Linked DNA regions of Homo sapiens: region 1 is linked to region 2. Evidence: fine-mapped expression QTL. A gene starts in region 2. The other region holds a variant in brackets. All regions are shown on one strand. Distances are from middle to middle.

What was found. PIP is the estimated chance that this variant, and not a neighbour inherited with it, causes the effect.
Region 1: its variant is the best candidate, but not a certain one, in a credible set for the expression of NFKBIA in whole blood (INTERVAL, PIP 0.68).

The regions. Positions count from the first base shown.
Region 1 is chr14:35,087,680-35,093,053 of GRCh38, forward strand. PPP2R3C (protein phosphatase 2 regulatory subunit B''gamma) reads right to left here. Exons shown (of 13, transcript NM_017917.4): 11 at 3,391-3,528; 12 at 272-331. All of the region lies in intron 1 of LOC101927178 (a long non-coding RNA gene), which reads left to right. Among named protein-coding and RNA genes, the nearest start is that of PRORP-PSMA6, 31 kb to the right of the region's middle. The variant C/T (reference allele first, on the strand shown) is at 2,241.
Region 2 is chr14:35,402,646-35,408,018 of GRCh38, forward strand. NFKBIA (NFKB inhibitor alpha) reads right to left here and starts at 2,104. Exons shown (of 6, transcript NM_020529.3): 1 at 1,773-2,104; 2 at 1,045-1,153; 3 at 505-715; 4 at 126-214; 5 at 1-18. The coding sequence starts at 1,999. RefSeq lists enhancers at 1-345, 596-905, 936-985, 2,090-2,961, 2,166-2,565 and 1 more and silencers at 1,186-1,775, 1,926-2,095.

The sequences.
Region 1 (5,374 bases), 310 kb before region 2:
ATGAGCCACTGAGCCCGGCCCCCTGACTGTCTTAATTAAAATGAATGAATGCTTCCAATGAAAACATAATGATGACAATACTAAAATTATAAACTACATAAATAGTCCAAATGTGGTCTCAGTTCGTAATGATTTAAATATCAGTTCAGAACAAAAAGCAAACACTTGATTCAAATAGTACTTCATTAGTTGCTTTCATATAAAATTTCATGTAATACAAATGACTATCTCATAATTATCTGGTAATACGTAAATTAAAGGAAAAGATAACCTTGACATCTTGAAATGAAACAGGATCTTGTCCATGGATTTTCATTAGTTCCTGTATGGCCTGTATTTAATAGAAATAAATCTGTAAATAAAAAATGAAATACACAACATCCCTCTTTTGCCCTACAACCCCTTTCTACTTATACTTCCTTTCCTATCAGGCCACAAACCTCATCATTCTCTCTCTTGCCAATCTTCTTAGCTTTCTTGACCTTATTCCACATCAGTGAGCAAAACCTAAATTCTCGATTAGTGTATTGACCTTTTTAGACCTATATCTTAACTATTGAGAACTTCAGGAAAAAAAATAAAAAGATTACGGATTGCTGCTTCTACATAGGAATGTTCTCCAACCTCAAACAGGCCCTCAGCATGGCCTCACAATTATTCTGTTTGATCTGCTCCTCTCATTTTCCATGAATGTTATTCCTGCCTTCACTATTCTCTTAAGATCCCCAATCTACTGTCTCCCTTCCTACCCTACACTTTGCTTTCTACGTAATACAAGAAATGGAGGTAGACCTCCCAAAACTCTTCCTTTTCATAAACTTTAACAAAAAAATGAAGAAACTGCTGTCATCCAGTAGGAATACAAAATACTTCAGGTGAGCATTATTCACTGGAAATGTGAAGTTTCAAATTCTTGGTGAACAGTCAACTTTGTTCCCGATGCCTACTCTGTTACCACTAATAATCAGAGTATCCATAAAGGAATCCCTTTGAAGTAGATAAGAATCTGAGTACATGCTCTGTTAATATAGTAATAGATGGTATGATCTAGAGTGAATCATCCAGACCCAGCTTTATCATTAGGATAGTGATGTCCAAACGCTCTGTGAACAGCCCAGGATTATAGGGCTCAGCATTGGACACTTTTTACCTTATCCCATATAACCAAGCCTAAATAAGCTTTGACAAAATGCCTATATGAAATATTTTTAAAGTAGTTTTAAAACAATTTAATATTCTAAGAGTAGAAAATACTGTAAAGAAATCTTTATGAAAAAGAGCAGTGTTTAATTTCAAATACATTTATTTTCTTAAGACTGGATTTTTACCTAATAGGTTTGTCTAAAGTAGGGGCATTCCTATGATGGGTTGGTATTTATTTTCTCAGATGAGCCGCTGATATAAGCCCATATAGCATTCAGTTTTTTTAATTTTTATTTTTAGAGATAGGGTCTTACTCTGTCATTCAGGCCGTAGTGCAGTGGCAAATCATGGATCACTGCAGCCTTGACCTCCCGGACTCTAGTGATCTTCCCACCTTAGCCTCTCAAGTAGCTGGGACTGCAGGCATGTGCCACCACACCCAGCTAATTTTTAATTTTTTTGTAGAGATGGAGTCTCCCTATGTTGCCCAGGCTGGTTTCCCAACTCCTGGGCTCAAGCAACCCTCCTTCCCTGGCCTCCCAACGTGCTGGGATTAGAAGCATGAGCGACCACGCCTGGCCTAAAAATTATTTTCATGGTTTATTTCAACATAGCAAATAAAAGTATCTACAACTGGCTGGGCACAGCCTCCCCAGTAACCGGGACCACAGGCATGTGACCACTACACCCAGCTAATTTTTTAAATTTTTTGTAGAAGTTGGGGTTTCCCTGTGTTGCCCAGGCTGGTCTCAAACTCCTGTGCTCAAGTGAACCTCCTGCCTCAGCTTCCCTAAGTGCTAGGATTACAGGTGTGAGCCACCATGCCTGGGGTATGATTTTTTAATTTTTTTTTTTCTTTTTGAGACTCAGTCTCGCTCTGTTACCCAGGCTGCAGTGCAGTGGCGCAATCTCGGCTCACTGCAAGCTCTGCCTCCTGGGTTCATGCCATTCTCCTGCCTCAGCCTCCCGAGTAGCTGGGACTATAGGCGCCCGCCACCACGCCCGGCTGATTTTTTTGCATTTTTAGTAGAGATGGGTTTCACCATGTTAGTGAGGATGGTTTTGATCTCCTGACCTTGCGATCCGCCCACCCTGGC[C/T]TCCCAAAGTGCTGGGATTACAGGCATGAGCCACCGCAACCCGGCCGATTTTTAAATTTAATAAAAGCATTTACATAACAGATTTCAGAAAGAAATCAAGTTTTTAGTTTTCTTTCCTACTTAAAAAAATTGAGTGAAAGCTGATTTGACTAGATGTAAAATAAAAATATGTAAATATACGTCAGGGGCTGTACTACCATTGGAAATACAAATATGTGATAAATTCTATACTTGTGATGAAAAACTTGTAAGATGCTAAGCAGTTCAGAAAAGGTAGCTCCTTTCCACAGAAATTTTTATAGACTTTGGTAGTTGTAGTTTTTTTTTTTTTTTTTTTTTTGAGACCGAGTGTTGCTTTGCTGCCCAAGCTAGAATGCAGTGACGCGATTTCAGCTCACTGCAACCTCCGCCTCCTGGGTTCAAGTGATTCTCCTGCCTCAGCCTCCCAAGTAGCTGGGATTACAGGCATGTGGACCCAGTTATTGGGGAGGCTGAGTGGGAAGACTGCCTGAGCCCAGGAGTTGGAGGTTGCGGCGAGCTATGATCATGCCACTGCAGCCTGGGCGACAGAGCCAGACCCTTTCTCAAAAAAAGAAAAAAATAAATAAAAATCACGAGTTAGGTAAAATGGTTACTAAATATTTAATTTAAACCAAATGATATATCTTTAATTTGCTCTTCTTTTTCTAATTTCCTAAAGTAGATGCTGATTTTAGATCTTTAACATTTTCCAGTATATGCATTCAATACTATAAATTTCCCTCTAGCCACTGCTTTTGCTGCATCTCACAATTTTTTTTTTTTTTTTTTTTTTGAGACGGAGTCTCGCTCTGTCGCCCAGGCTGGAGTGCAGTGGCACGATCTCGGCTCACTGCAAACTCTGCCTCCCGGGTTCACGCCATTCTCCTGCCTCAGCCTCCCAAATAGCTGGTACTACAGGCACCCACCACCACACCTGGCTAATTTTTTGTATTTTTAGTAGAGACGGGGTTTCACCATGTTAGCCAGGATGGTCTCTATCTCCTGACCTTGTGATCCACCTGCCTCGGCCTCCCAAAGTGCTGGGATTACAGGCGTGAGCCACTGCACCGGCAGCAACAAAATGATATATCTTAAGGAACAATGACTCACTTATGCAAATGAGACTTACCCTAAAGAAATAATTAAGTGAAAAGACATTCAGGTATCCTTTGTTCTCAATATCAAGCAGTTTGAAAATATATTGTAGAGCTGCAGGTTCCTTTCTGTTTTCTAATGCAAGGACAAAGTCCAAGTAGGTCTTATAGTCCTACAGAACAGAAAATAATGTTCATTAGAGGCCTTAGTTGAAATTAACTTTCAAGTGAATATCTTATGATTTGAAGCTATTTTGCAATCAAAGGTGGCAAATTTAATTTTTTCCCTAAGTTATGATATGAGAAATCCATTTATATACTTAATATTGGTTTCTAGGGAATTTTTTTCGAGACAGAGTTTCACTCTCATTGCCCAGGCTGGAGTTGCAATGGCACAATCTTGGCTCACCACAACCTCCACCTCCCGGGTTCAAGCAATTCTCCTGCCTCAGCCTCCGGAGTAGCTGGGATTACAGGCATGTGCCACCATGCCTGGCTAATTCTGTATTTTTAGTAGAGATGGGGTTTCTCCATGTTGGTCAAGCTGGTCTCGAACTCCCGACCTCAGGTGATCCGCCCGCCTCAGCCTCCCAAAGTGCTGGGATTATAGGTGTGAGCCACCCTGCCCAGCCATAGGAATTCTATATATAATCTACACAGGACAGTTTTGAGGACATAGTTCTTTTTTATTTATTTATTTTTTTGAGACGGAGTCTTGCTCTATTGCCCAGGCTGGAGTGCAGTGGTGCAATCTCAGCTCACTGAAACCTCTGCCTCCCAGGTTCAAGCGATTCTCCTGTCTCAGCCTCCCAAGTAGCTGGGAATACAGGTGCACACCACTATGCCCAGCTAATTTTTATATTTTTAGTAGAGACAGGATTTTCCATGTTACCCAAGCTGGTCTCAAACTCCTGACCTCAAGTGACCCGCCTGCCCCGGCCTCCCAAAGTGCTGGGATTATAGGCATGCACCACTGTGCCCAGCCCTAGTTCATTTTTTTATGAGAGATTTGCTGTGTTAAACTATAATTTTCTTTCATTATTCTTGTTTTTGAGACAGGGTCTCACTTTATCAACCAGGCTGGAGTGCAGTGGTACGATCATAGTTCACTGCAACCTTGATCTCCCAGGCTCAAGCAATCTTCCCACTACAGCCTCCGAGGCAGCTGAGACTACAGGTACACGCCATCACACTTGGCTAATTTTTTAAATTCTTTGTAGAGATGGGGTTTTCCTGTATTACCCATGCTAGTCTCAAACTCCTGGGCTCAAGCAATCATCTGGCCTCGGCCTCCCAAAGTGCTGGGACTAGAGGGATGAACTACTGCATCCTGCTTCAAACTTTTGAAACAGATGACTAAGCTATAAACTTATAACTTCATTTCAGTGCAGTTATTTTGAAAAACAAATTTTTTATCTGGAATGAACAGAACAGTATAATTTTTTTTTTGAGATGGAGTTTCGCTCTTGTTGCCCAGGCTGGAGTGCAATGGCGCGATCCTGGCTCACCACAACCTCTGCCTCCCAGGTTCAAGTCATTCTCCTGCCTCAGCCTCCTGAGTATCTGGGATTACAGGCATGCACCACCACGCCTGGCTAATTTTGTATTTTTAGTAGAGAAGCGGTTTCTCCAAGTTGGTCAGGCTGGTCTCAAAACTCCCAACCTCAGGTGATCCACCCACCTCGGCCTCCCAAAATGCTAGGATTACAGGTGTGAGCCACCGTGCCCAGTCTCAGAACAGTATATTTAAATTGCTATTTTAAAATATTGTTTAAAATTTTTAATTCAGATTTCCAATAAGAAGCTGTCTTGAGATTGCCAGACATTTTACAGTGAGCTGACACTGCTCTCATCCATAAAAAGGCAAAATGGAAAGGCCAGAAAGACATGAAGAGAACAGAAAGCCTTCCCTATAAAAACAGGATACGCACTTCGGGGGGCCGAGGCGGGCAGATCAGAAGGTCAAGAGATCGAGACCATACTGGCTAACACGGTGAAACTCCGTCTCTACTAAAAATA
Region 2 (5,373 bases):
CCGGCCATTACAGGGCTCCTGAAACCAAAAGGAATTTGAGATGCTTATGGCTGCATTTGGAATTTCTGCTCACAACATAAGCACGAGGAGCCTGACTCAGTGCGTCGGGGGCAGGAAGCACCAACCTGAGCATTGACATCAGCACCCAAGGACACCAAAAGCTCCACGATGCCCAGGTAGCCATGGATAGAGGCTAAGTGTAGACACGTGTGGCCTGGAAGAACAAAAGGAAAAAAGTATAACCACCTGTTTCAACCCTCACTCCTTTCACCTATTCTTTTATGGAACAAGTAGTCTTATCTTCTGAATTTTAAGAACCCACAGTCTGGGTTCTGAAAGAACTTTATAAAGGCATCCAATAGGCACTTTGCACACATATTTTCTCAACCTTCCAAATGTTAGGAGTTTAAGCTCTTGCCTGGACTCCTTAAGTTGGCCCACCTGCCCCTTCTCCACGTCACCTGCCCTCCGAGGGGGTGGGGCAGGGCAGGGAGGCAGACATACCATTGTAGTTGGTAGCCTTCAGGATGGAGTGGAGGTGCGGGGTGGTGCAGGACTGAGTCAGGACTCCCACGCTGGCCAGGCAGCCCTGCTCACAGGCAAGGTGTAGGGGGGTATTTCCTCGAAAGTCTCGGAGCTCAGGATCACAGCCAGCTCCCAGAAGTGCCTCAGCAATTTCTGGCTGGTTGGTGATCACAGCCAAGTGGAGTGGAGTCTACGAATGCAAGAGAGACCAGAGAAAGTAAGCCATGGACCAAACCCACACCCCGAGTTCCCCTCAACCCGTGTCTCCTGGTTGGGTGCTGCTCCTCCTAGACAGGGGGGTGGGGAGGGCTGGCAAATAGCAGAGGCTCCAGGTGGGTCATAAAGACCTCACCAAATCAGTGGAATTTCCTTCACTCTCTAGGATGTGGGCTGATGTGAAGTAAAAGGTGAGGGTAAATAGTGCTCAGTGGCCCTGAATTCAGAAAGGATCTGGGGTGACTCTGCTACATCAGCTACGTCCCAGGGTCAGAGAGAACCCGGGCCAGGCAAGCGGCGCACCTGCTGCAGGTTGTTCTGGAAGTTGAGGAAGGCCAGGTCTCCCTTCACCTGGCGGATCACTTCCATGGTCAGTGCCTTTTCTTCATGGATGATGGCCAAGTGCAGGAACCTGTGGGGAAGAGAGGGAAAAACCCCAGGGGTGGTGAGTGCACCGCGTGGGGCCCAGGGAGGCGCGGGCTGCGGGGGATTGCGCAAGGCCGGGGTTTCTGGAGGCCGAGGCCGCGGTGTTTTCCGCGAGGTTATTATGAGCTGAGTGTTCCTGGCAGGCGCCCAGGGACTTTCCGCCCCCCTCCCCCCGCGGCCCCGGCGGGCGCCGGCCAGACCGCCCCGCCCTCCCGCCAGCTCGGAACGCCCTGTACTTCCCCTCCCGGCTGCTCGGCGCCCGCCAGCGGCCAGAAACTCCCGCCCCGCCTTATGCAACCGGGGACTTCGCGTCCCCGCTGCCGCCCCGCCCCCGGCCTAGAGGACGGGTCTGGGGGGAGGGGGCGTGTGGCGACGCTGCCATCCACCAGGGCCCAGCCGCCGCCCCTCCGAGTTGGGCCGGTGCCCCGCGCGGCCCTGCAGCCCTGCAGCGTTCGGGGCGGTGCAGGAGCCCCGGGGTGCCGCGGCGCCCGCCCGGCTGCATCGCTGGTCCCCCGGCTCGGGCTCCAGGCCCGGCGCCTCCCACCCCCAGGCCGCGCGCGTCCCGCCCTCCCGACGACCCCCAGCCCCGGGCCTCCGCCACTTACGAGTCCCCGTCCTCGGTGAGCTGCTGCTTCCAGGGCTCCGAGCCGCGCGGCACCTCCTGCGGCTCGAGGCGGATCTCCTGCAGCTCCTTGACCATCTGCTCGTACTCCTCGTCTTTCATGGAGTCCAGGCCGCTGTCGTGGCGGTCGTCCAGTAGCCGCTCCTTCTTCAGCCCGTCGCGGGGGCCCTCCATGGCCCACTCCTGGGGGCGCTCGGCCGCCTGGAACATGGCGCGGACGAGCTGCGGGCGCTGCTGCGGGTGCGCTGGGCCGCGGGCTGCGCGCTGCTTCCTCGCTGGGGCGCTGGCGGGCGGGACGGCGGCACGGACTGCTGTGGGCTCTGCAGCGCCGCCGCGGCGCCCTATAAACGCTGGCTGGGGATTTCTCTGGGGCGGGGTCAGGCTCGGGGAATTTCCAAGCCAGTCAGACCAGAAAAAGAGAACTGGCTTCGTCCTCTGCTAGGGGGAAAAAGAAGCCTAAACCCTGAGCTGGGGTTCATCGGAGAAACTCCCTGCGATGAGCCACTAGGGTCACGGACAGGGAACTTTTTGATGAGCGCCGAGTGGCTGGAAAGTCCTTCCGACCAGGCCCCCTCCCCCCGGTACTTCCCTGCAGCCTGCACCCTGTAATCCTGTCCCTCTGCAAGTGAGCCTTCTTTCCCTGGGGTTTCCCACGATCGATTTGAATTGGGGTCGTCGGCTGCTGAGATCCCAAGGACGCCGACCTGATGGGCGGTCCCTCTTTGGGGTTTGCCAACCTGCCGGTCCTTTCCGTTTTTTGATCTTTTGAAAACGCAAGAGTGGAAATGATGGCTGGGCGTAGGGATTTGCTTTCCCCAGACTTCTAAGGGGAAGGACGCACTGTGGTTAGGGGGCTGCAGGCCGCGCCGGTGTTTCTGCCTATACCAGGCTCTTTGCAGCAAAGGAACTTTTAGCTTCGCCCCCACCCCCCCACGCACCCCCGCCAGGTAGAAGTTGTGAAAGCTTTGGAGGAGTGAAAAGCCTAAATCCTTGGAGAACTCTCAAATCACTTCCTAGGGATGAACAGCCCTGTTGACTGGGGGAGGGGCAAACGCTCCCTGTATGGGGAAACTGCTGAATAGGACCATGATTTTTTTTGTTTCCCAAGTAAAGCAAGGTGTTAATGTTTGTAGTGGTGGTTGTGGATACCTTGCAATAGCAGAGTAGCTATTGTGTTCATAAGTAGCTATTCGTTTATGCTATCTGACCTACATTGTGCTCCCGCAGAAAAAGGATCGTGAGCCTACTTCTGGGCACCCAAATTCGAGGAGAACTTAGAGAAGGAGGCTGAAGAATGAGTTTAGTTAGTGCCTTAACCGCGATTGGACCTTAAGGACCACTAAGAAAGTAGTTGCCAGGCATCCTGCGGGAGGCTCAAGGTAGTCCCATCCTGCCCGCCCCTCCTTGCTCTCTTGTCCTGGGGGACAGTAGCAGTTGGACCCATTCACGCCACCTGGGTAGAAAGGGGTTTCGGCTCACTATGCTCTGGTTTCACCTGCAGAAATATAATTTATGCTCTCCACTCCACCTCCACCTCCAAGCCTGCAAGCCATGGACTGAATTCATCTACTTGGTAGAATTGGTACAGGCAAAATAAAGCAAACTTCGGTCAGAGCTCTTCAGAATTAGTCCCAGGAGGCCTCTGTAGTTCTGCAGAGATTTCTGGTGATTATTGCAATCATCTTTACCTTGACTGGCCTTGTACTAACCAATCCTTCCCCTCTCTTCGTATCTCCACCCCTCCCCTAATATTAGAATGAAAGAAATCTGACTCGATAGAGAGAGACCAAGTATGAAGGGAAAAAAATTAAAATCAGATAGACCCTCCAGGGTAATAATGATCACATGTTACAATGAAAACTTCCCAGGGATAGACACCATTGTCTCTGCAGGTTTATGATATGCAAATCTACAATGATTGAGGCAAGGTGAAACAGTGACTGCAATGGGACATCTCAATTCCAGGTTCTATCTTTACTTGACTGCACATTAGTTGGAGAGGTCAGTTAACTTTTTTGTGGTATACTTAACTTTTATAATAAGATTAGATTGAATGTTACTTAAGGTCTTTTCTAGCTTAAAAGTCATATTGCTTGTCTACAAATGCATGCCTAACTCTCCTTTGTAAGGGTGACCATGGCTCTTGGAAATGTCAGGGTATAAATTTTTGAAAGAATTCCAGCGCCTTATGTACCACATTGTTCTCAGAACTAATCTTGTAAGATAGATATTGTTCCTACTTCCCTAAAAAGAAACTGAAATGCATAGAAATTTACCCAGGAACCCCTTGGCAGTATATTAATCATTTGGCCAAAGCAGTCTTAGTATTAACACTTTTGAAAACACGCTGTGAAAATCAGACTGACTACACTATAATTTGGAATGTACTCAAAAGTATTTTCTACTCCAACTGTTAGGGAAAATAAAGGGTGGGTGTCCCCTGACCCCCATCTGGGGATAGTCACTTCTTTTAAACAAGTACAGAAACATCAAACTCTAAATGTCCCAATTATAGAGGATACATCAGAAGAAGATATTTGGCTTCAGGTATAAAAATGGTTATAAAAAATAAAAATATCTGAGGAATAAGGTTTTTTTGCACCACCTTCTATGGTTTTATATTTCTGGTAGCCTTCAGGATCTTGGTGTTTATTCCTGATTGTTTTGTGTGACACCTAGTGGTAAGAGTAAGGCACAGGCGTTCCTTGATTTGTCATAGTGCCTTTTGCAAAAATTGGGAGGTGCTGAGCCTTGATGACTTGTCCCTACAGTGGAGATTTCCAAGGAGGTACCTATTGTTTTCCTGCGACTCTGGGAAACAGTTTTGAATAATGTGATCCAACAGGTTTTCTCCCCATCATCTATAGCGCTATATGGTTTAAGTCAACAAACATTACAACGTGGGTGAAAAAGAATATACACTTGGAAATTAGAACCATGAGCAGACTGGGCAGAAGACAACAAGAGGGTCTGGTTTTGATTTAGAAAGACCTTTATGGGCCAGGAGTTGTGGCTCACTGCTGTAATTTCAGCACTTTGGGTTGCTGAGGCAGGAGGATTGCTTGCCACCCAGGAGTTGGAGACCAGCCTGGGCAACAAGGCTAAACTCTTGTCTCTACAAAAAATATAATTAGCAGAGTGTGGTGGCAGGTGCCTGTAGTCCCAGCTACTCCAGAGGCAGAAGTGGGAGAATTGCTTGAGCCTGGGAGGTGGAGTTTGTAGTGAGCCATGATGGCACAACTGCACTCCAGCTTGAGCAACAGACTGAGACCCTGTCTCAAAAAGAAAAAAAAGAAAAAGAAAGACCTTTATGGACCCTTCAGCACTCAGATTTTTCTCCTCCTCATTGTCAAACATTCTAGCTAACATAACCGTTAAAAAAAATGTTAAAACTGTAGGCTGTGCGCAGTGGCTCACGCCTATAATCTCAGCACTTTGGGAGGCTGAGGCAGGTGGATCATGAGGTCAGGAGTTCGAGACCAGCCTGGCCAACATGATGAAACCCCGTCTCTACTAAAGATACAAAAAATTAGTCGGGTGTGGTGGTGCAGATGCTGCTTAGGAGGCTGAGGCAGGAGAATCAC